Linked DNA regions of Homo sapiens: region 1 is linked to region 2. A link means that fine-mapping ties the variant in region 2 to the expression of a gene that starts in the linked region. Tissue or cell type: whole blood. Region 2 holds a variant in brackets; the other region holds the start of a gene. All regions are shown on one strand. Distances are between the middles of the regions.

Region 1 (2,671 bases), 24 kb before region 2:
TTTGATCATACTTGCATTCTCTTTGCTTATTCAGTTCTTTGTCTTTTTGTCTGATTTCTGTATTTTACCCTGGAGACTTTAGGCCCTATTTGAAGGAAATGGCCATGCTGTCTGGCTTCTTGATGAGTCCCAGTACCCAGCACAGAGCACAGTACACTGTAAGTGCATGGCGTGTATTTCTTGAATGAATGATTTCTTGACATTGAAATTTTTTTTAGCTTACTAGCTTAAGACATTTGGTGAATAGTGCATTTAAAGTATATAATTTTGTGTAGCTTAAAACGATACACAACCAAAAAACTGCAAGAAAACAAAGTGCAATGCTTGGAGAGAGGTTTAGTGAAAAGAATAAGGTGTGTGTTGGGGAGCAGGGACATAGGGTAGGGTTTTTTTTCTTGGATTTGACATTGTTGGGGCAAGTGGAAGAATAATCAACAATGTCTGAATCTTCACATTAACCAGGCATACACAAGCATCCAATGGCTGCTTGAACCTGAGTGTCTTTGCTGTGAATAAAACTGCCTGTGTTCTGAAGTCATGGACTTGAAAGGGACCTTAGTGATCGTCACATCCTATGCTCCACTTTATAGATGAAGAAACTGAGACCAGAAAAACGCAGTGATTCCCTGCTAGTAGGGCTGGGTCTAGAATTCAGGTCTGCTGACTCCCAGACGGTGTGGGAAGGGGCATTCGTTCCTTTAAAAATAAGCACTGCTGCTTTAATAACATCAGCACCTGTTGTTCCAGCTTCTGCAAGAGAGAAGCTATTAATTTCTCCTTCATCAAAGCTGAATTTCTGGTCTGTCTGAACCTTGTTTTCTTCCTGACTGCAGCTGTCTAAACCACTAAGGCCACATGTTGGACGGAGGCACTTTCCTGCTGGAATCCGATAAATCACCACACCCAAATATAGAAAGAAAAAGGGACACAGATCATCCACACCGTGGCCGAATGTGTGACATCTTTGCTGAACTCTCTCCGTTCCACCTTGTGGTGGAGGCCTCCAGTCCACCAAACACAGCCCTAGGCGTGTGAACCCTGCCACAAACATCGGTGCTCTTCCTGCACAGGGCCTGGGACCAACCGTGGCCAGGACATCAGCTGCTGGAAGCCGAGAGAGTTCATCTGAGTGGCGATTTTATGATCTGCAGAGTGGAAAGTAATCATAATCCCTTGAGAAGTTTGCAGAATCGAACCGAATGTTGAATGCCAAAGATCTTCACAAAGCAAGTTGAGTTTCTTCCGTTATTATTGTTATTTGTGTTAGCGAGGCCTGGATTGCTTAGGTTGGGTTTCCTCCCGCGCCTATTCCAGCAGGCAGACCCCGCCCTTGGCCACACCTTTCTCCTTGCCCGGGGTAGGAAAGTGAGGGGCTGCCCGGCGCCCGCGGGCGTCCCTGAGGTCGGGGGTGGGGGGGAGCCGCGCAGCGCGCATGCGCGCCGGGGAGCCGCCGGCCTCTATAAGAGCGCGGCTCAGCGCGGCAGCGAGCGGAGTCGGAGCTGGTCTGGCGCCGGGCGGGGCGAGGCGAGGCTGTGGGCGGCTGCTGCGCTCGGCTTCTCCCGTAGCCCGGAGGAAAGAAACTTCCGTGGGAGGCTTCCATCGGTGCGCACACCTCCCGAGGGCGAGGCAGCGACCGGGAGAGGGAGAGCCGGCCGGAGGCTGCCGGGCTCCTGTGGGACCGCGCTGCAGCCGGGGAGGCGGAGAAGGGGAACCGGGGCGAGCCGCCCGCCTGGATCCGCGCCCAGCAGCAGCCGCGGCCGCCGCCAGCTGGGCAGGCTCCCGGGACTGCGGCTGGGGGCGCGCAGGACCCTCGCCTGCGTCCTGGACGTTCCCGGGGTCAGGAGCGCTCCCTCGGCGACGTGCTGGGAAGATTGGCCGTCGGCCCCGCCGAGTGGAGCGTCGGGGCTGCACCCCCGTGGGCTGCCCGGGCGGCCCGGCCGGAGCCATGCGGACCAAGTTCGGGGCAGAGGAGGCTGAGCGCGGCCGGCTGCGTCACTTGCTGCCCAGAGCCTTGCGTGCACTGCCCGCCTTCGCCCCTTCTACCCGCCCGAGGAGGGAATAAAGGAGGGGAGACGGGCCCTGATTCGCGCGCGGGACCCTGAGGCTTAAACCCTGCGCAGAGCCCTGGCTCCAGGTCCGCGGCGGCGCGCCCAGCGGTCATTCGGCTCGAGTGAGCATCCCTTCGGGGATGCTCAGGGAGGGTCCGGTTGCCAGTGAAACCTCCAGAGGCTTCCGGACGACAGCCCCGGGGGCCTTCTGACTGCATCCCGAGATTTCCATCAGCGAGTGCAACTCATAAGGCAGTCCCTAAGGGGACCGGGCCACCGGCTGAGGACGGGGATGGCTTAGGAGCTCCTGGACCTAGGGCCCGGCGTCGTCGCCTCCTGGGCGTCGCGGCAGAGGGGAGTGGCCCGCGCGGAAAGCGCCGCGGGACAGTCAGTGACGAGGCCCGGGGGTCGCCGGGGCCACGACTTCTCGGAGACCGTCCTGCGCTCTCTGGAGACGCGCTGTCCGCGCCCAGGGTGGTGCCATGTGGGGCGCTCGCCGCTCGTCCGTCTCCTCATCCTGGAACGCCGCTTCGCTCCTGCAGCTGCTGCTGGCTGCGCTGCTGGCGGCGGGGGCGAGGGCCAGCGGCGAGTACTGCCACGGCTGGCTGGACGCGCAGGGCGTC
Region 2 (2,846 bases):
TAAGACTAAACTCTCCACTGGGAGCCACAGAATCTAGCCCTGTGCTTACATTACCACCTACACTGTAGGACATGATATCACATTACATTTTCCTTTACTGTCTGTCTCTCCCACTAGAATGTAAGCTCCATGAGGAAAGGGACTTTGGTTGGTTGGCCACTACCTCTCCAGTGTCTGGAAGTCAGCTTGTATTCACAAGAGCAGCACGTAAGAGCATGGCAGAGGCCCCAAAGCTGAAGCTCCCTCGGATGGTGAGATTCCAGATCGCTAGCAAGTCCGGCTTCCCATGTTCTAACTGCAAGGCCCCCTGCTCCCCTGCCTCTGCCCACCAGTTGAGGCCTCTCCTTGGGAACAGGAGCCTCAGCAATTTTAGAAGAAAGCCCCCTGGTTCTCAGACAAACATCCAGCTGGCTGTTCAGCTGGGACTGAAAAGGCCCAGAGCATTTTCCCTTTAGCACACACAGTTTCCAGAGAATGGGTTATCTCTTGTCTCCTAAAACAAGACTTGGGTTAAGCCCTTACATACCTGCCGTGGCACTTTTGGAGCTGCTTTGCCAAATTCTCAAAGTTAAAAGTGAATTTTTTTCTTTTGCATTTCTGTACAGTTGTTTACTTCATTTTTTCCCATAGAACTACTAGGTACGTATGCATGTGTGTACTCATGCACACAAATGCAAAAGCATCCTGTCTGTCTGAATAGTTTTCCCTCACTCACAAGGACAGGTGCTTCTGTGGAGCATCCCTTAGCTCTCTGCTGTGCATTACAGGGGGGTTTTTCATCATATAAATCGGGAAGTGAGATTGAATGAAGACATTTTCCAGCTAAAGTATTAAAAACATTGCTTGGAGGCAGTTTCTTGAATAAGGGCCTCCCAATCTCATTCTCTGCAACCACATGCAATTTATATGTAATACTGAAACAAATTCAAGGGCTTTTCCTGCAGCCATCTTTGTGAGTAATTTGCAGGCAGCTCCTCTTAAGGACACTGGGAAGGGAAAAAAAGTGAGCTTAACAGCTTTGTTTGTGGCTACTGGGCTGTTCTCTTTCAGCTCCTAACAGCTAGTCATACCCTCCATTCAAGGCCACTCGGGAAGCAACAACGACAAGCAACAACCATCTGGCCTCCCAGCTACAGGGCAAGATGTGTTAGGTTGGCGTAAGAGCCTCCCCCACCCCGCTTTTTTTTTTTTTGAGACGGAATCTTGCTCTGTCGCTTAGGCTGGAGT[G/C]CAGTGGCGCGATCTCAGCTCACTGCAACCTCCACCTCCTGGGTTCAAGCGATTCTTCTGCCTCAGCCTCCTGAGTAGCTGGGACTACAAGTATGTGCCACCACACCAGGCTAATTTTTGTATTTTTAGTAGAGACGGGGTTTCACCATATTGGCCAGGCTGGTCTCAAACTCCTGACCTTGTGATCTGCCTGCCTTGACCTCCCAAAGTGCTGGGATTACAGGTGTCAGCCACTGCGCCCTGCCAGGCATAAGAGCTTTTAATCATACACCACAGTTTTAAAAGTTGGGGGAAGGTCGGGTGCGGTGGCTCATCCCTATAATCCCAGCAGTTTGGGAGGCCGAGGCGGGCAGATCACGAGGTCAGAAGTTAGAGACCAGCCTGGCCAACATGGTGAAACCCCGTCTCTACTAAATATACAAAAATTAGCTGGGGGCAGTGGTGGTGCCTGTAGTCCCAGCTACTCAGGAGGCTGAGGCAGGAGAATCACTTGAACTCAAGAGGCAGAGGCTGCAGTAAGCAGAGATGGCGCCACTGCACTCCAGCCTGGGTGACAGAGTGAGACTCCATCTCAACAACAACAACAAAAATTGGGGGGAAAATCAGGAAGGGTTTCTCAGCAATTTAGAATATTTCAAATCAAAACCCATTTTTTTAGAGTAGAGGAGAGAGTACCTGTAGCATTAAATTTTGACAACTATCTAGTGACAGTGATATAGAAACTCCTGGGGCAGACAATTCAAATCCAAGGTTCAGGTCAACGCTGTTGCTTTAACGATTACCTGCGCACCCTTTCTTCAAATATCCATTGCTCTGGAATCTTAAGTCAACAACAGTTCATTGTAGAGAGAGACAAACAGCTGAAGATTGAAGATGGAGCTTTGAGACCAACCCTCAAGAATTTTAGAATTTTAAATCATCTTATTTACGTGCATGGCCTACTTTTAATAAATGAAAGCTTAATGCTTTTGAGCTGGACTGGATGTGCTTGGTGCTTGTAGCTTTAGTAGGTGGAAGGGTTTTATTTTTGTCCCCCTCTGGTAATCAAGTTCCAGAGCCTCATCTATAGCCCCAGTTAACATTATCTCCTTGGCATTCCAACCAGCACTGGAGAGTTCCCTCAAAAGACTCACGTGTGGGACAAAATGAGGTGGAAGATATCAGAGGCAGAGGAGCCCCACGTCACATGCCCTGTTGCTCTGCCATACATCCAGGGGTGTCTGATCTTCTGGCTTCCCTGGGCCACACTGGAAGAATTGTCGTGGGCTACACATCAAATACAGTAACACTGGCCAGGTGTGGTGGCTCGCGCCTGTAATCCCAGCACTTTGGGAGGCTGAGGTGGTTGGATTACTTGAGGCCAGGAGTTCAAGACCAGCCTGGCCAACATGGTGAAATCCTGTCTTTACTAAAATACAAAAAATTAGCCAGGTGTGGTGGCGGGCGCCTGTAATCCCAGCTACTCGGGAGGCTGAGGCAGGAGAATCACTTGAACCCGAGAGGCAGAGGTTGCAGTGAGCCAAGATCGTGCCACTGCACTCCAGCCTGGGCGACAAGAGTGAAACTCCGTGTAAAAAAAAAAATTCGTAATATTTTAACAAAGTTTATGAATTTGTGTT

What was found. PIP is the estimated chance that this variant, and not a neighbour inherited with it, causes the effect.
Region 1: it holds the start of SHISA2, and the variant in region 2 is fine-mapped to the expression of SHISA2 in whole blood (TOPMed, PIP 0.96).

Annotation. Positions count from the first base shown.
Region 1 is chr13:26,050,835-26,053,505 of GRCh38, reverse strand. SHISA2 (shisa family member 2) reads left to right here and starts at 1,490. Exons shown (of 2, transcript NM_001007538.2): 1 at 1,490-2,671. The coding sequence starts at 2,531. It overlaps LINC00415 (long intergenic non-protein coding RNA 415), which reads left to right. Exons shown (of 2, transcript NR_146971.1): 2 at 834-1,230.
Region 2 is chr13:26,027,176-26,030,021 of GRCh38, reverse strand. No RefSeq gene overlaps it. Among named protein-coding and RNA genes, the nearest start is that of SHISA2, 23 kb to the left of the region's middle. The variant G/C (reference allele first, on the strand shown) is at 1,228.